Linked DNA regions of Homo sapiens. The protein of the gene in region 2 purifies or fractionates together with the protein of the main gene of each other region. This does not show direct contact. Each region holds a gene or a part of one and is shown on either strand. Other genes may lie near its edges.

Evidence for each region.
Region 1: the proteins of MAGIX (region 2) and STK26 purify together in Homo sapiens (affinity purification with mass spectrometry; 3 studies listed by BioGRID and IntAct, with this or other methods). This does not show direct contact.
Region 3: the proteins of MAGIX (region 2) and TJP1 purify together in Homo sapiens (affinity purification with mass spectrometry; 3 studies listed by BioGRID and IntAct, with this or other methods). This does not show direct contact.
Region 4: the proteins of MAGIX (region 2) and STK24 purify together in Homo sapiens (affinity purification with mass spectrometry; 3 studies listed by BioGRID and IntAct, with this or other methods). This does not show direct contact.

Annotation. Positions count from the first base shown.
Region 1 is NC_000023.11:132,061,301-132,068,334, reverse strand, and holds part of STK26 (serine/threonine-protein kinase 26), read right to left. Parts: intron 4,903-7,034; coding exon 4,846-4,902; intron 121-4,845; coding exon 12-120; intron 1-11. UniProt on the Homo sapiens protein: Serine/threonine-protein kinase that acts as a mediator of cell growth. Modulates apoptosis. In association with STK24 negatively regulates Golgi reorientation in polarized cell migration upon RHO activation.
Region 2 is NC_000023.11:49,158,330-49,165,786, reverse strand, and holds the start of MAGIX (PDZ domain-containing protein MAGIX), read right to left. Parts: upstream 3,030-7,457; 5' UTR 2,898-3,029; coding exon 2,849-2,897; intron 2,005-2,848; coding exon 1,858-2,004; intron 1,081-1,857; coding exon 998-1,080; coding exon of another isoform or gene 925-997; coding exon 697-924; intron 598-696; coding exon 426-597; intron 1-425.
Region 3 is NC_000015.10:29,812,469-29,819,468, forward strand, and holds part of TJP1 (tight junction protein 1), read right to left. Parts: intron 1-7,000. UniProt on the Homo sapiens protein: TJP1, TJP2, and TJP3 are closely related scaffolding proteins that link tight junction (TJ) transmembrane proteins such as claudins, junctional adhesion molecules, and occludin to the actin cytoskeleton.
Region 4 is NC_000013.11:98,462,099-98,469,132, forward strand, and holds part of STK24 (serine/threonine-protein kinase 24 isoform b precursor), read right to left. Parts: intron 4,464-7,034; coding exon 4,278-4,463; intron 1,739-4,277; coding exon 1,593-1,738; intron 1-1,592. UniProt on the Homo sapiens protein: Serine/threonine-protein kinase that acts on both serine and threonine residues and promotes apoptosis in response to stress stimuli and caspase activation.

The DNA.
Region 1 (7,034 bases), about 83 Mb from region 2:
CTTTTGTATACCTTTTATGTCTCGGTGAATTTTCTTTTCTGAATGCAGATAGTCCAGACCTTTTAAAATTTCCTTTAGCATGGTAGCAATCTGGAACTCATCAAATGGACCAGCTCGAAGCTTAAGGGGAAAAACACACACACACATACACATATGTGTAAAAGTTTGGAAACATAAAATTCAAAATTGGTACCTTTGAAATGAAGAAATCACTTAGACACATGATGCCGTTCTGTTTATCAAACCAATATCTAAACAAGGAAGGAAAAATGTAAAATGTGAAGGAAGAAAGCAAAAGAGTTCAGTCAAAGGGCTGAACAGGTTTTTTAATGATTCAATTTAATGAAAGATAATACGAGCCCTTTTACCTATATACTAGGCTTCAAATTCTGAGGTTCCTGAATATTTACATCAAAGATGAAACAAATATGCTTACGTAATGACAGAACCAACTATCTGTTCTTTAGATGGAAAAAAAGAGAAATCAGCTACTTAAATTCAGGCAATTGCTGTGAAAAAGTTACTACATATTGACACGAAACTGATTTTTAGGTCAGAGAATCCATAAGATTTCCACAGCAACTATTTGATCATATCAGTCAGCATTTATGTATTTTAATAATATTGCAAAGAATAGCCTTTTTGAGACTCAAATTGTAAATTTAGCCAAGAATATAATAATTAAACTATTCAGACTATGATGGTAAAAAAAAATTAAATCATGGAGGGATAATGTTTTTCAAATAAATGTAACACATATCCCTTTATTTCCCCATCCCTGTACCAAAGCCAATAGTTCCAACTGGAATACAAGGAAAGCAATGATTAGGTTTCAGGAGAACTTGTAATGGAATATCTGAAAATCCCTCTTTAAAATAAATGGTTATTTTAAAATTCTGGTACCTCATAAAGCACAAACAGTGGACTGTACAATATTATTACAGGAAAGGGTGGGAATCTAAAGTCAGAGCAGAGGTAGAGTTCTGTTTGCTTCTGGAAGGAGGGAAGAGGTGGTGAAAATCAAACATTGCCCACTCTGCCTCACACTGGGAGGGATCCACAGCTCTTTGGCACCTTGTGTATTTCATCTTTCATGAATGCCATATTTATGCTGAATAAAGGGCACTTTCATGTTGAAATTTAACAGCTTAAAATAGAACTCATACTTTGGTCTCACCATCTAATATTAACTGTGGTCTGGGTATATAGTATACTCCAGGGATATCTGTAATTCAATAGGTCCCTTTCCTAGGTAACATTATCTACTTACTTTCAAATCTATCAACTTCCACCCCAAAGTTTCTATTCAAACAGTAGTGATTAAAATAGTTTCTAAAGTCTTCTAGAAAGGTTGAAAATGGCATACTATTTTGTTGATGGCTGGCAATGAACTTCTGAGGTACTACAAAATAACTAAAGGACAAATGTCACACTACTTAAGATCAGTAATTAGTATCATCTGATCACAGGACATTGGCAAGACCAGGGGAGGTATATCCTTGGTTATTTCAGTGATTGGGCAAGATTAATGTACGACCTACTAGCTATCATTCTGAAGGACATGTAAAAGTAACATAAATAAGCCAGTATATTACCTAATACAGAAGTTTTTAAAAATATTTAAGTAAAAACAACAAAAAGGGGATCCCAAAGATTCATGAGCTTATCTGCTATATTTTAGGTTCATGTTAAAATTCAATAAAAGTGAAATCTCAATTAACTGGGTGCTAGAGGAGGATGGGAAGAAAGACTCTGTGGCAGGGAGACTTCTCCATTTGAACTTTTCTCCGATAACTGAAGAACTTGCCATGTCTCTAACAGATAATATCTCTGTCCCAGGGCAGTGTACTTGCCTTGTGTAATTTGCCTCTGTTGTCAAGTAAGAATATGCAAGAGAGGGACCTTGACTCTTTCGAAGACTGTACATTTGTGAGCTCATGGATCTTTGTCACAATTTAACTTCCAGCCAGTCCCTAATGCAGTCTGCTATTTTATGCCCTCTCTTATGGTTAGCATATTGTTTCTTTTTTCTTGGGGCTCATGTTTTATTCTAGTCATCTTATTATATGTGTTTTTGTTGCAAGCCACCACGATTCTTTTTGGAAAGAAGTGGAGCATAATAAACTCAATAAAATGATGTGCAATATACTCAAAGTCTGCTCACATACAATAAATTGTTTTTCAAGAATGGGAGTGACTCAAGGTAGACACTGTATAATGTTAACATAAATGACAAGTTGTAATCTTATGTTATTCCATTAGTTAGGTACCAGGCACCAGTTTAATGTGAGAAACACTCTCTGCTAAACATCCCTCTTATTTCCTCTTGTTCTTAGTAGCAGAGCCTTCCTCTACACCTAATCCTGTCTTAGATTCCCCCAAATGATAGCATTTATTTGTACAGGAATATACATGAAAAAGGAATAGCACATTTTCTCATTATCTGCTCTCCCTGTAAAGTCTAGTTAAATGAGTTTTATAATTAAATCACAATATTATTGAATTTTAGAGCTAAGAACACAAAATTAGAGATTACTGATTCAATTTCTTCATTTAACATGTGAATAAATTAAGACACAAGGAGGCTAAAGGGCCGCCCAATATTTGCCAGGCAGTCAGTGTTAGCACTGGGTTTATGACCTAGGCCTTTTGATTCTTAACCAATACAGTACTAACAACATTTTTCATTCATTGAAACTGTTATTAATGGCTATTTGTTTTATTAAGTAGAGTTCAGAATAGCAGGATGAGATTAAGATCTCACAATCATTTAACTTGGAGATTTCATAAAACTGACCAAACTACTAATAGGGGACACAGATTTGGGTCATTGGTTGGGGTTAGGCCAGTGTTCACTGTTTAACATTGCTATCAGTGATCCTGTTGAACAGAGTGGCCTAGCTTTGCCAGTGCTTCCAAAATGGGGAAGAGATATGGTGAGCACCCTGAGGAACCAGATAAGACAACTGATAAATTTGGAAAGGGCTCTTAATATTCAAAAAATGGAAGGAGGATCATGAAACAATTGAGAGGCTTCTTGTAGAGCTAATGAAAAAACTATTGAATAATATGACTCTGTGACAAGACAAATAGAAATGAGATCATTTAACTTCAAGAGGAGAATGAAGCCTGACTCCATATGCATGAAGGATTATTACACAAAGAAACATCAGTGGTGTTCTCTCACTAGAGACGAGAGAAAAAAAATGAACTCAGGCTTTAGGATATAAGAATTAGATTAGACACAAGGAAAGATTACCAAATTCAGCAACTGATTAAACTGACATGAATTCCTAGTAGTAGATGAGGCTCTCCATCAAGTTTAATTACCATTTCTTTAAAATGGTTTAAATATGGTTCTGCCTAAAGGAAAGAAAATCTCTTATAGTCATTTCTGTTCATAAAATTATTTGAAGCTTTGAGTTACTGGCAGTCAAGGTTAAAGCCTTTTAAAAATATTTAATCACTTTCAGTTAGGAAAACTCATCTCCACCTAAAAAAATAAGAATTAAAATATTACTTGATTATTTTAATCAAAACACTTTCTTAGAAACAGCATACTCTATAATTTCTAAGGCAGAAACACGCAAATAAAAAAAATATAATATTAAAGATGGAAGGGAACTTAGAAATAACTTAGTGCAACTTCTTTGTTTTATAGAACACCTACGTCCAGGAAGTTTGTGTCTGGTTCACAGGCACAGAGCCAGACCTATAACCTCAAACACCCCAGGCCAGCCCAGTGGTCATTCTACTACACTAAGTTGCCTCTCATAAGTCATACTGAATTTTAAAACATAGTATCATATTAATAAAGATTTTTAAGGAAGGGAAAGAAACTCAACATTGATAGGATCACACTGAATTGGGGAACAACCAGTGTTTCTCAAAGGCATTCTGTGTGTAAATGCATCTTCATTGGGTTGAATTTTCCTGCACACTGCAGGATTTTAGCATTCTGATCCATGACCACAAAAATGGCAGGAGCACTTCTAAGTCATTGTGACAACCCAAATGCCATCACATTTCCAAATAACCTATAGAGGGGCAGAGAGAACTCTGTGAAGAACTGGATCTGTAGGCCAACCTTGTTTAGAACCCTAGTACCACTATCTTAGTCAATTCAGGTGCTATAGCAGAATACCACAGACTGGGTGGCTTAAACAATATTTCTCACAGTTCTGGAGACTGGGAAAGAAGTCCAAGATCAAGGGGCTGGCAGATTCGAGTCTGGTAAAGGCACTCTTCCTGGTTTCCAGAAGGCCTTCTTCTCACTGCACCCTCTCGTGGTGGAAAGAAAGTCAGAGAGCTCTCTGGGGCCTCTTTTGTAAGGGTGCGAATCTCATTCATGAGAACTCACCTTCATGACTTAATTAGGTCCCAAGGTCCCCACCGCCTAATACCATCACATTGGGGGTTAGGATTTCCACATATGAATTTTGGGGGGACACAAACATTCAGTTCATAAAAAACACTTTTAGTGACAGTTATCTCAATTACATATTTTTTAAAAATCTAAGAAAACTCAGTTTTTTCAGGGATAAGCTTGCAAAAGTCAAACTTTGACAGCAATGGATACACACATCCCCTTCTAATTTGGGAGACTTTATTTTATTAAGCTATTTGCATTTCTTATATAGTCTTAGAATGCCAGCAACATGTTCAAACGTACAATACATCTGTACCTACATAAGGTAGAGGTCATGAAAAAAGAATTTAATTTGAACATATTAACTAAAGCAACCACTTAGCGTGCTCAAAAGCCATTAATCTTCAATTTAAAAAATTAAGGTATGTGCATATGCACACATTTGCATCTGTGTGTAACTATTTTAAAATACTTACAAGATCCAGTGCTGAACCACCGCCCAGGTATTCCATTATTATCCATAATTTAGACCCCTGTAAAGCCATGAAACAATTTAATAATTACAAACCTGAGCCAAAATAACATACTAGCAAAAATGTTAAATCTCACATACTAAAGCACAGATTCTATTTGCATGTTCTCATTTATTTGTGGGAGCTAAAAATTAAAACAATTGAACCCTTGGAGATAGAGAATAGAAGGATGGTTACCAGATGCTGGGAAGGATAGTAGGGAGGGGGAGTTGGTGATGGTTAATGGGTACAAAAAGTAGTTAGAGAAAATGAGTAAGATCTAGTATTTGATAGCACAACAGGGTGACTATAGTCAATAATAATTTAATTATACTTTTAAAAATAAGTAGAAAAGTATTACCGGACTGTTTGTAACACAGAGAGTAAATGTACCCTGATGTGATCATTATACATTATATGCCTTTATTAAAATAGCTCATGTACCCCCATAAATATTTACACCTTCTTTGTAGCCACAAAAATTAAAAATTAAAAAAATAAAGAACAGATTCTAAAATGTAGGTTTAAAAATGGTTGCTTGGGAACCCCGAATATATTTTTTCCATAGAACATTCCAAATTAAAATTCTGAGCTTAGACTACCCGCATACCTTTTTGCCTATGATATAGCTAAACAAATAAAAGTACTGTTTGTTATTGTTGAACTATTAGTAATTTTTATAAAAAACAAAGCTTTAAATAATTATCTTGAATGATATTGGAAAGAAAAGATAGTTACATTAAAGAATGAGGAGGTAAATGAGGGCTTGTAGAAATTTTGGGTTTGAGTTTGAGGACAATGGATATTTTGCCTTATTTCAGTTGTTGGCTTTCATTTGTTTTGATGTACTTCAAACTTTTATCAGCTACGGTTAATGGGCATTTTTGGCACACACGGAACCTAGAAAGAATATTGTTCATTTTACCTCTGATGTAAATGGATAAGAAAAAGGGAGAGTGTAGCTTTAAAAATCTGTGCTTTCTCCAGGTGGAATTAACTTCCCTGTGAGCTGAACAAGAGGAAATGGGGCTCCTGGGAGGAATATATGTATACAAATTCTAAAACAGGTGTACACACACACATACCATTCAGTACCATCAGTTAAACACTGGAATAAACCATTAAACCCTTTTTATTTTAGCTATAGCTTAAATACAAGGGACACCTCTCTCTCCATACCATTTCATGAGTGGTATTCTCTGAATTTTTGTGGGACCAAAGAGCTGACTGGAAGTAGAATGGTTGGCTTTACTATACTGGCAGCAGCCAAGTAGTGACTGGACTGTGTTCCAAAAGTTGGTTTTTAAGTAAGATGTTCAGAATTTTAAAAGCAAGCATTTTCCCATAAAAATAATGTCTAAGTTCCTGGGGTAGTCCTCCCAAAAGACAATTTCACACAAATGTATTCATTCGTAGTATAGCATAAAAAGTACCAGAGAAACTCACTACTATTTATATCTTAACAATATTTCAAGTAGGAAAATATATTCAGCATGGTGCCTCAACTTGGGATGCCAGAAACACATTTCTCACCTTTACAACCCCAGCTGCGGGGTGAAGATTCTCAAGCTACTGCCAGTAGCCCTCAAACTCAAAAATCCCTGGGAGGTATTCAGGAGTCCAATTTAAAATTTCCAGGCATCTCCATGAGGATGTGACTTTATCAAGGCAGAGAATGGAACCCAGTGACATGATGATGAGTGCTTAGGGGATGGGAGAGGGTTGAAGAATCAGAGTGGAACTGACATTGTAGTGTGGGGAATGGGATGTGGCCTAGGGTTAGCGATCATGAAGGGAGGGCTCAGTTAATTAAGACAAAATGATTCTCCTTTCCATATGCTGACACTATGTAGAATTTGTAAGAGAAAGGGAGGAACAATATTCCCCTACCACTTCCTCCACTAATCTTGACATCCACTCTGTCCTGACATAGATGGCCAGCAGGCACTGTGAGCAGAAAGCTGAGAGTCTTGGTTAGCAGTGAAGTCTACATTAGGAAATAGAGGAAATAAATTCCCACAATACTGGTGAGGGAAGAGGAGTTCCAGGAAAGGTTCATATAACTTGTATTTGTGTATAGAACCTAGGCACTCGCAACCTGAGAATTGTGACTCTGATGTACCTTTATACTTTTTTCAAGAGAAGAAAAAAGT
Region 2 (7,457 bases):
ACCTCCGTTGACTCCCAAACCACCGACCCTTTGTTTTTCAGAACTAGACCCCCTACCCTCTGGATCCCCATCCCATTTTCCCCCGGCTAAGATCCACTCTGCCTTCGCCTCTGAGAACTAAGACCCTTCCTTCCAAACACTTGCTTTTATCCTAGACCCCTTCCCTTCTCTTCCCCCAGTACCTGGAAAACCCACCCTCTGAAATTCCTATCCTCGAGACTGACACCCCTCCCTGCCCCTACGTTATTCCTATCCTGGGACCCTGTACCCCTCCCTGCCCCTACTTGTGAGAATACCATGACCTCTTGCAGACCCTCCCCACAGAGACCACCAAACCCTTCCCACCCAGAATCTCAGCTTCTCCACTCTGTGAACCTCTCCCTTCTCCTCACTGATCTCTGACTTCTCTCCCTTGGGAAACCCACCAACTCCTTTTCGGGGCTCTCCCACCCCTCGAGGCTTGCCAGGGTGGGTCTCCAGAGGCCGACGAATAACCAGGTGGAGCTGGGGGCCTCCAGCTCGGATCCGCTCCACGGCCTGGGCATGGGTGAGGCCCTGCGTTGACTCTCCGTTGATGTGGAGCACGAGGTCCCCGACCTGGAGGAGTGCAATGCAGTCGTGTTGGAAAGGCAAAAGGAGAGCACCCCAACAAAGGCAGGGATAGCACCTACCAGTGGAAGGGGCTTCAGGGCTCACCTCCAAACGACCACAGCGCTGTGCTGGGCCATCCTTCAGCAGCCCGCGCACGGCCAGCGGAGTGTCCCCAGCTACATCCCGGCCCCCACCTAAGGTGAGGCCAAAGCCTGCGTAACCGCGAACCAGCTCCACAGAGAAATGACCAGAGGCCTGGGATGGCTTCGGAGCACTACGTGCCTTACCCTGGATCAATTGGGGAGGTGCGTTACATGTCTCTAACCAACGGTGCTGGAATAAAGGACACAGGTGTACATAGTTTGCCCTGAGGCAGGAGGCCTCCGATAGAAGGATGAGATGGTACCTGGGGCCGGTGATCCACAATAGTGGCATGAGGCAGGCGACTGTCTGTGACCTCTATGTCCGCAGAGTCCAGCACGCTAACAGCTGGGAGATAAAAGCAGTGGAGAGGGCTGTTGGGGGACATGCCATGGAAACTACCTAGGACCTGTTCCCTGAGTTAACATTCTAGCCTCATCTACTTGTCTTGCCCCTGCAGCTCATATACAAACTGGCCCACCATTTACGCACCATCCCCTCAAGTAATCTTAAAGGTTCTCAGCCCAAACAAATTAACTGTTCTGACCCCACCTTCTTAATAAACAATCCTGGGCTCAGCCATGTGAATAATCTTCCAGGCCTTCCTATCTCCCTCTAATAACACGCAGAACACATCCCTCAAACAACACCATTCGGCCCACCCTGGAGAATGCTACTCCAAAATTTGGCTCCTGAACCTTCCATAGCACGCCCTCTAATTAGCCTCTAACCCTCATCCCATTCCTGACATCTCAAGCCCCGCCCCCATGGGACTATAGGCTCCACCCCCGTGACTCACATTTCAGGCCTGCCCCTTCGCTGCGTGCCCGCCCCCCAAGCACTCTCCAGGCCCTGCCTCCTCAAAAAGGACCGCCGCCAGAACGGGGGTCCAGTTCCGCACTCTCATCTAATCTAGCCCTCGCCGACTGCAATAACCCTCAAGGAATATGCTAGAATAACCCCAAGGCTCCTCCCACTCGAAGCACCCTCCGATCCCCGCCCCAAGTCGCGCCCCTTGGCCCCACCCAAGACAGGGCAGTAGCTGCTGACCCCCCAGGCCTGTCCCACTGAACCCAACTCCTCTCCGAACCCTCCCCCAGCGGAGGCCCTGCGCCAGTCACTCACCCTCCTTCCGGCGCAGGCGCAATGTGGCGCCCGCCCTGCGTACCAGCGCTGCCACGTCGACCGCAGCTCGCGCCGCCAGGGGGCGCGCGTCCAACCGCGCCAGGAGCTGCCGGGCGCTAGGGCCCGCGAGCGGGGAGGGGCCGCGGCCTGCGCGCAAGAGGGGACAGGTCAACGCCGACCCTCGGCCTCGGCCAACCCCTATGCTTCCGGACGCTCGAAGACCTAGAAATGCCCCTCAGGATACCCGGCGACCCCTGGCCACTCCCTCGATAGTTTCGGAGGTCACTGCTGTCCCTCCCCTCACGCGATCCCCGACCGTCGCGGGTAGCCGGTGCACCCCCGCTTGCTCCCACGGTGTCCCTGGAGATCGCTGTTTGACTGCAATAGTCCTAGACACCTCCGAACACCCCGTGAGGTCCTCGACTGCCCCCTAATCACCCTGGATGCCCAACTCTTCGCCCGCGATATCTCAGGGGACCCCATTTCCCCAGATATCCTGGGAGAACACGGCCTGACCCCATAGCCCCGGAACCCCCAATTCCCCGTCTAAGTATCCTAGGCAACCGCTGCTACCCCCATGAATTCCCTCAGAGGGCCCGTTCCCCCCATGGCCCACATACCTCCAGAGTCCCCCTCCACAGGTCCCCAGGGGCCCCCAGCTCCCCTCCCCCCAGTTCACTAAGACCCTGAGTGCCCAGGTGTCCCCAGTGACCACGGGCAGACCCCTCCCCGCACATCTGCACGTCTCCCTGGAGACTCCTGAGAGCCCCTCCCCTGCTCTGGTGCGCGGCCCTTTCCCTCGTGTGTGGGTGTGGGTAGGGGACCTCCAGCCCAGCCTCCATCGCTGGGCCCCTGCCCCCTGCCACCTTCACTTGGGCGCCAGAGCCGCTCTGTTTACCACCTGTCAGAAGGAAAAGGTGTGGAGCAGACAGGCGGGACGGGGATGGCGGCGACTCGCCCTGTCCTTCCCCAACGACCCCAATCCCTGTACCTCCTCTGCTCCCCCTAGGGTCCGCGGCGTCCCCTGTGCGCGGCTCCATGGCCAGTAGTCCGCCGGGTGGACGCAGGGCTGCCAGCTACGAATTTTGAGCTCTGGGGCGCGCTCACCTGGCGGCCCGCCCAGGCCCTGGAGGCTGAAGCTGGCGGGTCCCGTGCCTGGCTCCCGGACCCGCGCGGTGACCTACCTGGCGGCCAGCAAGGAGGCCTGGCTGTAGGAGCCAGGAGGAGTGCTTGGCCTCACTCTGCTGCAGGCGCCGCACTCTGTTAACTAAAGGTCCTAGTTAGAATTTAAAAGCCTGACAATACCAACTGTTGCTGAAGATATGGAGGAAATGGAACTCCTATACCTCCGGTGGAAATGTAAAATGATATTGCAACTTTATTTATTTATTTAGAGACAGGGTTTCGCTCTTGTTGCCCAGGCTGAAGTGCAATGGCACGATCTCGGCTCACTACAACCTCTGCCTCCCGGGTTCAAGTGATTCTCCTGACTCAGCCTCCTGAGTAGCTGGGATTACAGGCATGCACCACCACGCCCCCCTAATTTTGTATTTTTAGTAGAGACGGGGTTTCTCCATGTTGGTCAGGCTGGTCTCGAACTCCCTAAAGTGCTGGGATTACAGGCGAGGCCCGCCTCAGCCTCCCAAAGTGCTGGGATTACAGGCGTGAGCCACTCGTGCCCGGCCTGCAACTTTAGAAAACAGTTTGGTAGTGTCTTTAAAAACTAAGCGTACACATATGAGCCAGCCATTCCACTCCTGCGTATTTATCTAAAAGAAAGCATACATTTACACAGCCTTGTCTTACAAATATTCATAGCAGCTTTATTTCCTGTCTTATTCATTTAGAACTACTGTAACAAAATATCGTAGACTGGGTGGTTTAAACAACATAAGTTTCTCACAGTTCTGGAAGCCGGAAAGTCCACGATCAAGGTGGTAGCCAATTTGGTTCCTGGTGAGGTCTCTCCTTTTGGGTTGCAGATGCTTGCCTTCTTGCTGTGTCCTCACATGGAATTAAGAGAGTGAAGGAGAGTAAAGGCGTGAGAGAGGCACACACAGAGAGAGGGAGAGATCTCTCTCTTCTGTTTCTTATAAGGTCACAGTCCTATCTGGTTAGGGCTCCACCTTAGTGACCTCATTTTACCTTAGTTGCCTCCTAAAGAAGCTATCTTCAGATACAGTCACATTGGAGGTTAGAGCTTTAACATATATATTTATGGCTGGGCACAGTGGCTCACGCCTGTAATCCCAGCACCTTGGGAGGCCAAGGCGGGTGGATCACCTGAGTTCAGGAGTTCAAGACCAGCCTGGCGAACATGGTGAAACCCCATCTCTACTAAAATATACAAAAATTAGCCAGGCGTGGTGTCAGGTGACTTAATCCCAGCTACTTGGGAGGCAGAGGCAGGAGAATCATTTGAGCCCGGGAGGCAGAGGTTGCAGTGAGTGGAGATCGAGCCATTGCACTCAAACCTGGGGGATAAGAGCGAGACTTCTCTCAAAAAAACAAAACAACAACAACAACAACAACAAATATATATATATATATATATTTATGGGTGGACACAATTCAGTCCATAATATTTGTTAATATCCAAAAACTGGAAATAACCCAAATGTCCATTAATAGTTGAATGAGGCCAGTAATCGCAGCACTTTGGGAGGCTGAGGTGGGAGGATCGCTTGAGCTCAGGAGTTGGTGACCAGCCTTGGCAACATAGTGAAAGATTGTCTCTATTTTAAAAACATAGAAACATTGTCTCTATTTTAAAAATGCTAATGCCTGTAATCCTAGCACTTTGGGAGGCTGGAGGTGGAGGCAGGAGGATTGCTTGAGCCCAGGAGTTTGAGACCAGCCTGGGCAACATAGTGAGACCCCATCTCTCAAAAAGAAAACAATTTTCAATGAAAAAAATAGATGAATAAATTAACAAACTATGGTATACACATACAGGGTAATACAACTCAGCAATAAAAAACAATGAAGGATTTGGATGAATCTCAAAAATAATTATGGTAAAACAAGCCAGACCCACGCTCCAAAAAAGCACATGCTGTATGATTTCTTTTATATAAAAATCTAATAAAATGCAAACTGATATACAGTGACAGAAAGTGGATTAGTGGTTGCCTGGAGGGAGGGGGCCAAAAGGGCAGGAAAGAGGAAATACAAAGGGCAGGAGAAAACTTTTGGCAGAGATAGTTATACTCAGTATTTCTTTTTTTTTTTTTTAAGTGACAGGGTCACATTCTGTCATGCAGGATGGATTGCAGTGGCACAATCATAGTTCATTGTAACCTCAAACTCCTGGGCTCAAGGGATCCTCCTGAGCAGATAGGACTACACATATGTGCCACAATGCCTGGCAAATTTTTTACATTTTTGTAGAGACTGGGGTGGGGGGGTCTCACTATGTTGTCCAGGCTGGTCTTAAACTCCTGGCTTCAAAAAATCCTCCCACCTCTGCCTCCCAATGTGCTGGGATTACAGAGGTGAGCCACCACACCCAGCCTGTTCAGTATCTTCACTGTAGTGATCGTTTCACTGACATAAACATATTCAAAACCTATCAAATTGAAGTCAATTATATCTCAACCCCTTCAAAACTTAAAACAGCTGGGTGTAGTGCATGCACCTGTAGTCCCAGCTACTTGGGAGGCTGAGGCACGAGGATCACTTAAGCCCAAGACTTAGAGGTTACAATGAGCTGTGATCATGCCACTGCACTCCACCCTCAGTGACAGAGCAAGACCCTGTCTTTAAAAAAAATAAAATATAAATTCTCAAAACAGGCTGGGCATGATGACTCACGCCTGTAATTCCAGCACTTTGGGAGGCCAAGGTGAGAAGATCACTAAGGCCAGAATTTTCAGACCAGCCTAGCCAATGTAGCAAGACTTTGTCTCTAATAAATAAATAAATACAATCTTTTGTTAAATTAATGAATTGGGTGGGGCTGTGAGAGAAATTGACTTAATTCTTGAATTACATGAGGCTAAAAGGGGTAATTAGGGTTTTTTTAAATGATTTTTTTTTTTTTTGAGACAGAGTTTCGCTCTGTCACCCAGGCTGGAGTGCAGTAGTGCGAGCTCGGCTCACTACAACCTCCATCTCCTGGGTTCAAGCAATTCTCATGCTTCAGCCTCCCAAGTAGCTGAGACTAAAGGCACCCACCACCACGCCCGGCTAATTTCTGCAGTTTTAGTAGAGACAAGTTTTCATCATGTTGGCCAGGCTGGTCTCAAACTCCGCCCATCTCTGCCTCCCAAGGTGCTGGGATTACAGGCATGACCCACCGTGCCCAGCTGGGTAATTGGGTTGTATTCACAAATGGATGAGGCTAAGAGGGGCATTGATTTGAATCCACAGTGGGGCAGGGCTAAGTGAGGGTTTGCTCCCCCATAGTGTCATTGTAATCAATATTAAAGATAAGCACCAACACTGCTACCAAATAGCTTGGCTTGGCACAACACCAGCAATTTGGAAGCTTTGTTCCGAACTCTCTTGACAGTCTTACCATGCATATCTCATCACCCCCACTTCCCAGAGAGGTACATTGAGGTGTCAGGCAATGCAGTGGCTGGAGTTCCTCCCTCATGTCTGCATCCTCTCTACACCCCTAACCCTGCCAGCAGCCTCAGTGACACATACACTACTCTCTGGCCCTGGAATTTCGGCCCTGCTGGTGTCAGCTCTCTCAGTGAACACCTATCCTGGGCCCCTGCCCCTGTAATTTCAGCCCTGCTGGTGTCAGCTGTCTCAGTGAACACCTATCCAGCATCCTGGGCCCCCGCCCCTGTAATTCACGTCCCCTGAGGATGTCCTTGGACCCCTTCATTCGTTCATGATTCCCCAAGCCTGAATACCTCCCAGCCTGGAAGCAGTTTCCCATCCAGTTGGCAAGCTCCCTGATCGATGTTAGTAGATTCTACCTGGTGCTTGGATGCCTCCCCTCACTGTCCATCTGTCCTCGGCCCTTGGACAATGCCCCAGTCTGCAAGACCCTCCCATGCATGGAGCTACAGAGCCTCAAGCTCTCCTTCACAGTGTGTAAGCACCTCACTCTCACATCCACAGGTTCTTAAAACCTGGAGCCCCAGATTGGAAGCTGCCCTCTCCAGATTCAGGTGTGGAAGTCTCAACAAGAATTGGGAGGAGCAGTGAAGGAGGTCCAGGGTGTCCCCCCTTAGACAAGGTCAGGTCAGAGGTGAAAGAGGCAGGGGACTGCAGGTGGAATGAAAGCAGGAACCGTTCAGACCCTTTCACCTATGAGGATACTGGGTCTCTGAAAGGTGAACGGAGAGGCTTGCACAACCAGCCAGAATGGACATTAGGACACAGTGTGTCCACAGCCATAGTGAAATAGTCACTAACCAAGTGAGTCTTGTAGGTAAGCTGCCTGAAACTGGTGTTGTTGGCTTGCTGCAGGGACCTAGGCAGGTCCCTGAGCCTCTCAGACCCTGAGTTTCTTATTTGGCAAAGTAGTGGTGAAAGGCCCTCTCTCACTGCAATCCCATTCCTCCTTCCACTACAGTCACACTGTGTCCGAATGCTCCCTGCTTGGGGCTTATGTCCCCAGACACTCCCCTTTTCAAACA
Region 3 (7,000 bases), on a different chromosome or scaffold from region 2:
CTGGGGCTGAGCAAGAGCTGCTTCCTTTAGACAAACTGGCTTGTGCTCTGATGGAGCAGTGCCCTCTCTTCTGGCTTTCATGATTCATGCTGCTTTTCTGGTCTAAGACTTACCTAACACCATCCCATACTCTTCTCCCTGGTGCTCTCTTACAACACACGAACATAAAAGGATGTGAATGTATGACTTATAGAACATGTAAGTAGATGTATGATTACCTATGGCAAGTAAATTTAACCTCAGATCCTTCACCTGTAAAAACAGAGATAATCGTAGTATCTAACAGAATTGTGAAGATTAAATGGGATAATGCACATAAAACACTTAGCTCAGTATCTGTCACAGAGTCAGCATGCAATATAAGGGGCTACTGTTTGTTTTGACACATATTTCTCACACTTATAACTAAAATGTAAGCCTACTTGCCATGGCTACTGACTTGATTTTTATAGGTGATACAGCATCAAAATAGTGTACTTCTGTATTAACACTCCAGTAAGTATTAATACTCCAATAACTGCCACTGTTAGAAAAAAAAAATCAGTAAATAAACCTTCCTTAGTACCTTTATATGACATTACCAGGAAAAACTTCCACAATTATATTTTGAAAGGCAGACTCATTTTTGCCAGATTCATGTATTTCCCCTGATTGTGGCTTTTGGTGGTCTGATCAGTCAGGTAAGTGGATATCTTACTACTAAAACATACTTCAATACTTACTACTAAAACATACTTTAGTATGACAAACATCTTAGTCATAAAATATCCTCCAAACTAAGACCAACTTGATTTTTCAAGATAATCATAGGAACACCAAAAGAAGCTTACTACCTTTTGCTCAGCTGTTGGTACTCCAATGACTGCCTCATAATGCATATCTAATTCTTGCCCCTCAGACAGACATATACAATATTTTTCTCCAAAAAGCCACAGAAGTCTAACTGAAACTATTTTCTCCCGAAACCAATAAAGTCCTCATACAATGGAATACCATGAAGTACAAGAACTGAATGAAAACTAATGAGCTACAGTTCTCCACAACATAATCTTACAAACATAATGCTGAGCAAAAGAAGCCATATACAACAGAATTCACACTAGAAGATTCTGTATGCGCAAAGTTCAGAGAGTCAAAACTAGTGCTTTCAGAATGCATAATTAGGTGGTAACTATAAAGAAAAACTAGAAAATGAGAAACCTAGAAGACAAGATACATGCAATCTTTGAAGAAGGGAGGATATGACCCAGAAAAGGCATGTTAGGGATTCTAGCACTTATCATTATGGACAGAATTTTATTTGCTGCTCTCTACCCGCACCATTAAAATGCCCTATCAGTACAGAGATGTGTTCACTGCTGCATCTCCAGCACCTACAACAGTGATTGGTACACACGAGGTAACCAACAAATATCTGCTGAATGTAAAATTCCGCTTTAGGAATCCAAATTGTTACATATTTCACAGCTTCTTGAACCCTAAATGTAACAGTAACAGCTAGTATAGTGTTCATTTGCCTTGTCAGTATATTCAAGGAGCTGTTAAGCATATAAGCCAATTACTTTATAATTCTTAATGTCTCCCTCCTATTGAGATATTGATACCAAACATATGCAGAAAACACTTACATCAATGTATCCAGATTCAATTCAAACATTTAAAAACATTAACAAGGAAAAATACAGAAACTCTGCTAAACAGCAAGCCCAGGTTTAGAAAATGACTTTGTCACCTCCTCCAACGAAGAAAGCACACAAGAATGCTCTGTTATTACAGGATGACCATAAGTTTGCTCGTATTTTTAAGAGTAAACAATGCAAATCCTTTGTTTCTTCAACAATGAGTTACACAATTCACAAAGTGATCATTACAGCGTATAGCAGTTGAAAACTGTAAATTTCTAGGATCGGGATCCCAAACAAAATGTACTCATTTAATATGTGTTAAGCTAACAAAAAGAATTAGTCATTACTGGTATCCTCCTGAATTTTAAAATTACATACTAAATTAAGTGAGCTAATCTTATATTAAGTTTAACTGGTGATATTCAGTTACCAGAAACTGTTGTACAATCTCCAAGATAATGACAATTCCAAAAGCGTGAAAATTCCTAAGATAACCAAGAAGAAAAATGAACTTTTCAGTCTTTGGGAATTTACATTTTTTTAAAAAGGAAAAAATATTTCGGTAAGTCAAAAAAAATTAATTAAACCAGGTATACGCTAATCTTATGTTCCTAATTAGAATCCACAGAAAGTAATATCAGCTTCTGTTTTACCTCCTTTCCGGACATGATAAACTAGAATTGAGATCATTCACCAGTTAACTCACTTCCCAGTATTTTCAGTATATCAACTGAAATATATCCGCAACACAAACTAATAAAACCTTATCTCTTGATCTATCCCAAAGTGAGGGCCACCTGAGATTCAGTATTGAGCACTACATATATGACAGGGTTTTGTTATCACATTTCAAATGGTGTTTTACAGTACAAAGTTTGGTAACATTGGTGTTCTCATGATCTAAAGCTGTGTTCTTGTGGTAAAGGCAATCATTCAGAGTCCATTTATTTTCATCCATGCTTAGGATATAAGATAAAACTCCCTACCCACGTATTCCCCACATACTGCTCATTATTAAGAATTTATCTGTTTAAGAGGAATGGAAATAAAGCACCTGGCTAGCCCATAAAGGAGCAACCTGAAGCCACTCTTCTCTGCAATAAATAAATAAAGATGCACTCTAGGTCAGAGAGAGCAAAAGTCTTATTTTTATTGCTGGCTTATGCAAGAAATACTGCAACACACCAATTTTATAGGATTAACTTTAAAATCTGTAAACTATCCTAATGTCTATTTCTTTCTACAAGACTAAAAGTTGTTAAAGTAAAAAGGTTTTTCAAGATTTGCTTTCAAAATTCAGAGGTGCAAAGCAAGTTCCAGTCAAATATTCCAGGAGGATCATTCTAGACATAAACTATCTTTTTATTTAACATATCAAAACTTTGCTAATTAGAAATGACTGGCTCATTCCACTAGCTTGTCTTCAGCTACTATAATGCTCAGTCATACACAATGCTGAGCACGTGAATGCTTTCAGGCAGGCCTGAAATGAGCAATGACTGAGCAGTCACAGATGGGTGGCACTACACATGAATTTACAGCTGGACTCATGGTCTTTCAGTAAGGTGAATTTTTATCATATCAGGGGTATGTCAAGTAACAGGATTACGTCTTCAAATTTTCCACCAAAACTATTATTTTTAAAGACATTTTCCTTAGCAGCATGGTGATCTATCATATTTATACACAGTTTTATTCTTAGAACTGTACAGAGTTTACATTTGGTCTCTAAACAGAAAAGAGATTAAAGAGCAAGTAAAAGTCAGAGCCAGACCTTGTTTCCAGGATTGGAGGGGAAAAAGGGAGTGGAACTACTGTACTTTTTTTCCTTCAAATCAAACGGGAAGCAGTACTACATATACTGCGTTACAGCCCTCGAAGCCACAGATTGGTTTCCACCTCATTATTTATTGGTGTCTTTCCTTTTTTTTTTTTGAGACAGACTCTCACTCTGTTGCCCAGGCAGGAGTGCAGTGGTGCTATCTCGACTCACTGCAACCTTGGCTCAACTGCAAACTCTGCTTCCTGGGTTCAAATGATTCTCCTGCCTCAGCCTCCCAAGTAGCTGGGATTTTAGGCATGTGCTACCACACCCGGCTAATTTTTGTATTTTTAGTAGAGACGGGGTTTCGGCCGTGTTGGTTGTGCTGGTCTTGAAGTCCCGCCCTCAGGTGATATGCCCGCCTCAGCCTCCCAAAGTGCAGGGATTACATGCTTGAGTCTGGCAAATTGGTGTCTTTCCTAATAATATAATGTAATTTGTGCCAATATATAACCTGGGGGGGAAGAACACCACAATTTGAAACATAACTATCTTATGAAGCTGTCCTGAAACAAATGTAAGAGTTGTAAAATGTAGTTAGGATTATCAGCCAACTATATAAATTAAAGCTTTAACCATGATGGTCTAAAATGCCAAACACACACAAAAATTATTGCTACAGTGAGGATCATTAAAAGTTGGCAGCCAAACTTCAGTGACTTCTCACAAACTACAGTGAGTTTTTCACTTTTAAAACAGTATGAAGCAAGTATGCATTGATCAGTAACTATCATAATTAAAACACTGCATCACTCACTCAAGAAACAATCCCTATATGTAATGACTGACTCTTGTCATTAATTTTTGTTCATTAGCTTGGCCATTTTCTGCAGCTCTTAAGGTTTCAAAAACGTTAAGATATCAAGAAAAGCCCACTGTATACACAAATTAACTCAAGATGGATTAAAGACTTCAATGTAAAACCCAAAACCATAAAAACCCTAAAAGAAAACCTAGGCAATACCATTCAGGACATAGGCATGGGCAAAGACTTCATGATGAAAACACCAAAAGCAATTGCAACAAAAGCTAAAATTGACAAATGGGATCTAATTAAACTAAAGAGCTTCTGCACAGCAAAAGAAACTATCAGAGTGAACAGGCAACCTACAGAATGGGAGAAAAACTTTTGCCATCTACTGATCTGACAAAGGTCTAATATCCAGAATCCACATGGAAGTGAAACTAATTTACAAGAAAACAAATATCCGTATCAAAAACTGGGCAAAGAATATGAACAGACACTTCTCAAAAGAAGACATTTATGCTGCCAAAAAAAAGGAGGTATTTATGCGGCCAACAAACATATGAAAAAATGCTCATCATCACCGATCATTAGAGAAATGCAAATCAAAACCACAATGAGATACCATCTTACACCCGTCAGAATGGTGATTATTAGAAAGTCAGGAAACAACAGATGCTGCCGAGGCTGTGGAGAAATAGGAACGCTTTTACACTGTTGGTGGGAATGTAAATTAGTTCAACCATTGTGGAAGATAGTATGGCAATTCCTCAAGGACCTAGAACCAGAAATACCATTTGACCCAGTAATCCCATTACTGGGTATATACTCAAAGGAATATAAATCATTCTCCTATAAAGACACATGCACACATATGTTTACTGCAGCACTATTTACAATAGCAAAGACATGGAACCAACCCAAATGCCCACCAATGACAGATTGGATAAAGAAAATGTGGTACATATATACACCATGGTATACTATGCAGCCATAAAAAAGAATGAGTTCATGTCCTTTGCAGGGACACGGACGAAGCTGGAAGCTATCATCCTCAGCAAACTAACACCAGAACAGAAAACCAAACACCACATGTTCTCACTCATAAGTGGGAGTTGAACAATGAGAACACATGGACACAGGGAGGGGAACATCACACACCAGGACCTGGGGCCTGTTACCCGGGTTGGTGGTGGGGGGAAAGGGAGGGAAAGCATTTAGGAAAAATACCTAATGCATGTGGGGCTTAAAACTTAGATGATGGGTTCATAGGTGCAGCAAACCACCATGGCACACGTATACCTATGTAACAAATGTGCACATTCTGCACATGGATCCCAGAACTTAATTAAAAAAAAAAAAGCCCACTGTGCTCCACTTGATACAATAAATCAATTCCTGGGTATCATGTAAATCAGTGTAACAGTAAAAAATGACATAAATCATTTTCATACTTACATTATAATTTCAGATAGCCACAGCGGGCAATACTACTATTCCCGAGACTTAACAAAAACATTTAAGTATTCAGCAAAATCTAATAAGCATATACAATAGCACAATCTTAAATTAAATTTTATTGCTTCCTCCAAAGGAAAACAGCTTGAAAACACAGAAGCCACTGAAACTTCCTTCAGCCACTTTTCTGTGATTCAACCAATGAAATCGTTTCTTAACAATGATTCATACCACTTTCTTACACATTTAAACAATTCTTTGGTGACGCAGAGAACCACCCTAATTCTTGTTTTTCAACTTTCTAATAATCTTAAATCAAATACACCAGTAAACAAAATTCTGACTGCGAACGCAGACGTTTATCACACATATAAAAAACGTTTTTTTCCTTTATTTATTTATTTGAGACAGCGTCTCGCTCTGTCGCCCAGGATGGAGTGCAGTGGTGCGATCTTGGCTCAATGCAACCTCTGACTCCCGGGTTCAAGCGTTTCTCCTGCCTCAGCCTTCCCATTAGGGGGGATTACAGGTGCTCGCCACCAGGCCCGGCTATTTTTTTTTTTTTTTTTTTGTATTTTTAGTAGAGACGGGGTTTCACCATGTTGGTCAGGCTGGTCTTGAACTCCTGACGTCGTGATCCGCCCCTCCTGGCCTCACAAAGTGCTGGGATTACACCGCGCCCGGCCACGTTTTTTCCTTCATTACTTTTTGTTTTTGAGACGGAAGCTCACTTTGTCGCCCAGGCTGTAGTGCAGTGGCCCCGATCTCAGCTCAATGCAACCTCCGCCTTCCAGGTTCAAGCAATTCTCCTTCCTTAGCTTCCCAAGTAGCTGGGATTATAGGCACGCGCCACCATGCCCGGCTAATTTTTGTATTTTTAGTAGAGACGGGGTTTCACCATGTTGGCCAGGCTGGCCTCGAACTCCTGACCTCAAGTGACCCACCCGCCTTTATTACTTCTTTAGTATCATGCACGGAGGATTCTTTTCAATCTAGGTACATACATATTTTTAAGTAGTATTCTACATTTTCTTCTATTTTAGAATTTTTATTGCTCTTTGTCATTTAGATTTCCTTTGATTTTTTTTAGCCTATGAGGCAGAAAACATTTTTAAAAAATGGATAACCAATAGTCCTAGCACCATACATTGAACAAGCCACTTTCTCCAATAGTCTACAATATTATTTTTTACCACATATTCGTAGTTTTCCACCTTGCTGGCTAAATGAACTTAAAAGTTATCGTATCTCTGTGTTTCAATTTCTTCACCAAAAAGTAGAGATAATAGTTCACTTCATAGGGTTACTGTGAGAATTAAATAAATTGAGCACTTAGAACAATACCTGACA
Region 4 (7,034 bases), on a different chromosome or scaffold from region 2:
GGAGGTGGTTCCACAACTCCCTGGCGTGCCAGTGTGTGCATGCCCACCCTCCTCCTCCTCCCGGAGAACACCTCCCCCACCTCCCTGGGAGCCCATCTCTGGGACATCAGCTTCTCTCTGCTGGGCTCCTCCTCTCACCAGGGAAGCAGATGTCCCTGTGTTGGGTGTGGTGGCTCATGCCTGTCATTCCAACACTTTGGCCTCACCTTGGCCATCTCTCAGCCCTGGTTCTGGGATTCACACTCACTGCCTCTATTTGGTACCCTCCACTCGCTCCAAAGCCCACCCGTGTCCCTCCGAGCGCTCCCTCCCCCATCATGAGATGATGGTGTGCTGATCACTCCCTGTCCTGTATGGGCCTCAGAGGCAATGAGCCCCAGGCCCTGCTGATCATCCCCTGATGCCTGTGGCCCCATTAAGCCTGCACCTCCTCCCGCCCCTCGGCCATACCTCTCCCCTCTCACTCACAGGCGGAGCCTCACCCTCACACCTAGGGGCCAGCCTCACTCCCCCACATGCCCCAACTGACACCCTTTTTTCTCTCGGCTCAAGTGACCTCCACAGAGCAGTGGCCCCTAAGCCCGCTTCACCTGCCCAGCTTTCTCACCTGAACTCCACACCTCGGTGCCACTTCACACTGGACGTCTCTCCTGGACAACTCAGACTCACACACGGTTCACCCCACACTCGGCTTCCCGCACCACACATCACAACACCTGGTGCCACGCTGCCCCAGCCTGGAACATTGGCTTCCCTCCTTCACCCAAATCCACCGCCGCGTCCTGGCTCTCCAAACCTCTCTCCAGTCTCTTTCTCTTGTCATCCCTGTTGCTACCCCAGCAATCTCCCAATGGCAGTACCTCAAGAACTTCCGGGGGCAGTGGTCTCAACCTTGGCTTTAAACTGGAATCACCTAGAGACCCTGAAAAACCACTTAGGGTCTCATCCCCGGAAATCCTCATTCAACTGGCCTGGCACATGGACCTGCACTGTGGGCCAACTTTAACTTCTGCCAAGGCATGCACGAGAACAGACGAGTCCCACGCTCGGACTTCCAGACACAAGTCTGCCCGACCACCTCCCCCAGCCCTCCCCACACAAATGGCTCCAGCCCCACTCCGCCTCTTAAGCCAAGGGAATTCCTAGATGCCAAACTTGACAGCAATTCTCAGTAAGCCACTCCTGGTACAGAAGCTTCTACCAGACACAATACAGAATCACAAACACATGCATTTCTGGCCTTTCAGACATCCATGTAAAGCAGTTTCACCTGATCAGGGTTTTACAAACAGGAAGTTTAATGGAAAACAGAACAGAACAGAACGAAACAAAACAGAATGAAACAGCCAGGTCCAGTTCCCCATGCACAGCTCTACCACAAGAGTTCACTCGCAGAAACTCCACCAGCAACGTCAAGAGGCTAAACAACTCCCAAACAGGCCCAGGCTGTGTCTAACACAACAATTGCCACCAACCTGGATTGTCTAAAAAAAAAAAAAAACTCAACAGAAAACGAAACCCACACCAAACAGTGACAAAGACCAGCGGATCCCTCCCACACACATGCTTGGGTCACTCAGGGGCCGACTTACGCGTCGGAATCCTCGGAGCTCGAGTCGTCATGGCTCTGCTCGGCCTTCCATCTCTTGTACCTGTCGATGAGCTCGGTCAAGTAGGAAGTTTTCTTTGCATTGCGTAGTATAAACTTGTGCTTCAATAACTCCTTAGCAGTGGGTCTCTGGAAAAACACACCCAACAATTAAAGTATGAGATGAAGTTCTTGGTCCTACCCCAAAGGACAGACTTCTGCCTCAAAATGTCAACCGCCACACTGACACCTGATGGCTGGACTCTCTACTCCACAGCGCTTCTCACTGCAACTCACCCAAAGACGAGTCGCTCAGGACCTACGCCTGGGCTCTGGGTGCTATGGTGGGCAGGGCACTGTCTTTCCAAGGATGTCCCTAATAAATACATTTTCACAGAAAACTCTGCACAGAGCTTCACAGGGATCATTTAAGAGAGCTTAAATGATCTGGTCGGGCGCAGTGGCTCACGCCTGTAATCCCAGCACTTTCGGAGGCCGAGGCGGGCAGATCACGAGGTCAGGAGATCGAGACCACCCTGGCTAACATGGTGAAACCCCGTCTTTACTAAAAATACAAAAAAATTTAGCCGGGCGTGGTGGTGGGCGCCTGTAGTCCCAGCTACTCAGGAGGCTGAGGCAGGAGAATGGCGTGAACCCAGGAGGCGGAGCTTGCAGGGAGCCGAGATCGCGCCACTGCACTCCAGCCTGGGCGACAGAGCAAGACTCTGTCTCAAAAAAAAGCTTATCTCCTAGTTTATAAAATACTTTATGACAAATGCTGACAAAATATATGTTCTGTGTTGTTTAACTTTTTTTTTTTTTTTTTTTTGAGACAGTTTTGCTCTTGTTGCCCAGGCTGGAGTGCAGTGGCACGATTTCGGCTCACTACAACCTCGCCTCCCCAGTTCAAACGATTCTCCTGCCTCAGCCTCCTGGGTAGCTGGGATTACAGGCCTGCACCACCACACCAGGCTAATTTTTTGTATTTTTAGTAGAAACGGGATTTCACCATGTTAGCCAGGCTGGTCTTGAACTCCTGACCTCAGGTGATGCACCTGCCTCGGCCTCCCAAAGTGCTGGGATTACAGATGTGAGCCACCATGCTGGGCTGCTTTGTTAACTTTCTGTATTAACGTTTGGCCACATCCAACCATATAATAGAAATGTCAATTTGGAATTATCTCAGAGAAACTGGAAAGGAGCCAGGAGATCCCCTTTTTCCTGTCTGCTGAAAGAGCAACTGGATGCGCTTCACCACCAACTTTCCCGGTTTAGAAGGGCTATTTCCCAGGTCCCTCCCTCCCTTCCCTTGTGATTGGGCTGAGGACTTCACCCATGCCCTGGGCTCAGCATGGCCACCGCAAGCAGCACCTGGTCAGCTGCCTGCCTTGAGGATGGCGATAGTGACAGGGAATGTGCTTCCCAAGGAAACCAGCATGGCCCAAATGGGAACAGACAGCAGGAACACCCAAACACCGAGTCGAACCAAGTTCCCACTCACTCCAAATTACAAAAGCTTGATTACAAGAGCCAAGCATGTTTTCAGATTCAAACTCATGAGAAACGTGGATCACCTCAAGTATTCTCCCTCCCTGTCCATCCAAGGGTGAAACCCCAACTACCCCGGAGGTGCTCATATTCTCGCCTCTCAGCCAGCTCCTCGGTAGCTGTGGGGTGGAGCTCTGTGTGCTGGGGCATAAGCCCATACAGGACACATGCTTTGTATGGGAAGACATGCCTGCACACATCTCCACTGGTGCTGGTGCATGATGGCTGCAAGAAACATCATCGTGTAATAAAATGCAGAGCATCGTGGCATGCAGGACAAGCCCCACCACCACCCGATGCTGATGTAGTCATCAAACACTGGTGTGGTGGTCTCAGCCTGCATCTCCTTAGACGTACTTAGAAAATGTTGCATTACCCATTTAATTCCTTTACCAGAACTGGCATATTAGGAAACCATGGTGCTCTTGTAAAAGTAACCACCCATTTTTACATAAGAGTTAAGAAAAGGGGGGCTCAGCTTAGCCTTCAGCTAACTCTGCTGGAAAACTCAGAAACAAAACAAGGACATATGGTGCTACCTCCAACACCAACACACACACACTACTTTCAAAGAAATGTCCTAATTCAGACAGAAAATGAGGCAAAGCCACACAGTCGTTACTGCTGTATGGCTCTGCCAGAGTCTATTAAACCTAAAAAGAGAAAGTAGGCAGGAAGGGGAGGGGAAGAAGCACAGAGGGTGGCTTGGTTATATTTTCTAATCTTTTGTTTCCTAACACATGCCACCTGGAAAGTGAAAACATTTACTTTAAAGACATATTTAGCCATTTGTTTCCAGCTAACCTTTGCCATTATTAAAAACAGTGTAACAGTTTATGGCCTGATCTTCTATAAATATTAAACATTTATGATTCCACATTTAATATTAAGGAGAATATTCTTCAGATTCAATGAAGTATGAGATGGCAGAAATCTAAAAGAAAATAAGGAGATTTTTAATACTTAAAAATTAAAATGTATTTGCAAACCAAAGAAGTCAATCATACTTACTTAGAAAAAGAAAAATGAATAATACCAGGAAGACAGCTGAAAAGAGTGATTAAAGCAATCCCAACAGGATGTATCTCAACCAAGTCAAGCCGCACATGAAGAGGTACGCTGTGATCCCTGGGAAACTTACAAAGCTCGGCTCCTTATTCAAACAGGCCTCCACAAACTCCTTGAGGGGTTTACTGTAGTTTCCTTCCAACGTCGGTGGGTTGTTCTTTGGAATGAGGAATAAAACTTTCATGGGGTGCAGCTCGGAATGAGGTGGTTCCCCTCTTGCAAGTTCAATAGCTGTTATGCCCAGGGACCAGATGTCTGCCTGCAACAAGAAAAGCATCTTTACAAACACCAAGCAGGAATCTATTCCAATACACAGTATTTAGGGGGAAAATGGTAACATGTCTCAATACTTCTGAGGTTTTGAAAAAGGTATTTTTAACTGATATTTAAAAACATAAGCCCTCGCTGTAATTTCAAAAGAGACAACAGGAGAAACTGTAATATGCCAAATGTTTTCTGCCTCTACATGGAGATGGCTTATCAATTCACTCCTACTACGCCTCCTGCTGGATGCATTCGGCATTCCCCGTGGAGTCCCGGGGGCCAGCAGGACCAGTAAGAGAGGTGAGCAGAGAGGAGGAGTCCGGAGTGGGTGTACGCTCGCGAGTCACCCCCTCCAGCAGTGCTTAGAACTTAGGGCACAGCTCTGAGGTCGAGAGTGGGCACCTTGGTCTCAAGATACCTGGGTTGAAATGCCAGTTCTACAGTCAAAGTCCTGTGACGTTAGATGAAAGAGCTAACCTCTGAGCCCTGTTTCTCTCATCTGTAGAATGGAGGTGGAAGAGGAGGAGGTGGCCATGTAAGGTGCCTTACCAGGGGCCCAGAACTTAAAAAAGTTTATTATGAAAATGTTCAAACATACAAAGAACTGAGAAATATTAATATAATGCATCCTCATCTACCTATTGCATGAATTTACTAATTAACATTTTGCCATACGAGCTTTGTCCATGTGTTCCCCGAGTATATTTTAAAATCAATCAGTCATCATGACATTTTCCCCCGAGTATTTCCGTGTGCCAATATACAGACTTTTTACTACCTATCAGTGCCTGAAATTAACACGAATTCCTTAATGTCATGTATAATTAAATGTTCTCAGCTGTTCAAAAACTGTCATTCCATGGTTGGTTTATCTGAATCAGGATCCAAAGTCCACGGGGTACAACTGACTGCCAGGTCGCTAAGGCTCTTTCAACCTACAACAGTCCTGTCCCCAGTCTCCCCAGGGACATCAACTTAAAGAAACAGGTCCCAAATTCGGGATTTGTCTGGTGGTTTCTTGCTGATGTCATTTACTGTGTCTCTCTAGTGTCTGCATTTTCTGCCGAATGTCCCAGAGGAGACATCTGCAGAAGCCGTGTGGCCCCACTAGGACATCTCAGGTCCAGCTGCCCCACCTCCTTCTGCCCAGCACAGGCCTGTGGCACAACCAAGCAGTTAGGCAAAGGAATGAATTCCTTGAATGTGTCATGTCAATGAGAAGAGCCAGGCCATCCTAAGAGGAACTTGACAGCTGATGAGACATTGACAGCATGTGACACCAATCCCCAAACAGGACAGAGGCCGACAATGAGGCAGGACATAGTCCTATATGGGCTGGCGAAAGACGAATGGGGACTGGGGTAGAGAACACGCCTGAGTCTGGTACAGCTTTCCTGCTGTTCTCACTGTGCACTGGAATCCATCATTATTCCAAGAACTTCAGTGAGAATCGAATACATCTCTCACACTCACTCTACAGCAAGGAAATGCATAGGCGGAAGCATCGTTGTGGCTGCAGGGTGCTTTAACTATCCAGAGGATACACTTACCATGTTCCTGCAGCCTTAGTGAGTACCAGAAATCCCTACTGGAAGCCCCCAAGCCCAGCAGTCCATGGGAATGATGCCTACGGCATATTCTATTTCCTTATTCTCAGTGAAGATGAAAAGCTGCCAGCAAGTCTTGTTCTAAATTCTTTCTACTAAATCTTGTACTGAAGGGGTCAGTCTAGAAGAGCTGACGTTGGAAGTAATACTATTTTCCTTCCCTCTACAACTTGGACTCTGCTTTATCTTGCATTGCATTATCTTAAAAATCAGCAGAAATGCAACTGATCCCAGTCTCTTGCCCCTAGGAGCAGGGAAGCAGGTGCATGGGAGCACAGGGTGGGCAAGCACCCAGAACTGTGGCAGCGACAGGAGGACAGGAGTGAGCAGGCACAAGGAGGGAGGACCGAGGAGGGGAGAGGCAAGAACAGAGGTGGCAATTGTGACTCTTGTGTGGCAGCGGTTCTCCACACCAACAGGTGGCTCTCAAGTTTGTGTGATTCCACATCTGTCTGCTTCCCCCAGGCCTCTCAGATTTCATTACAGCTACTGCTGTTTTCAAAGCATGCTGTCTCCTGGCCACACAGACCCAGAGCCTTCTCATTTGTAAGGGTACATAATAGTTATATGAATTTTTTCTGGTACAAGTATACAGTGTGTAACAATCAAATCCGGGTAGCTGGGATCCCCCTCACCTCAAACACGGCTCATTCCTTTGTGCTGGGATATTCCAAATCTTCTCTTCTGGCTATTTGAAACACAACAAATTATTAACTACGGTCACCCTATTGTGCTACTGAACATGATCTCTGACGGATGCACCTCCAGACCTCCAAGCACCTCTCAACCAGCTAAACACACTCGGTGACTGGCAGGCAGGCCCTGGCAGAAGCCGATCTCTGCTGAGAGTACGTCGGTGATGCGCTTGCCTTGATTTTACTCAGAGGCCCGAGGACTTGCTTTCAGGTTCAGGGACAGATAATAAGCAGGCGGCCGAACGCCTGCTTGCGAACGCCTGC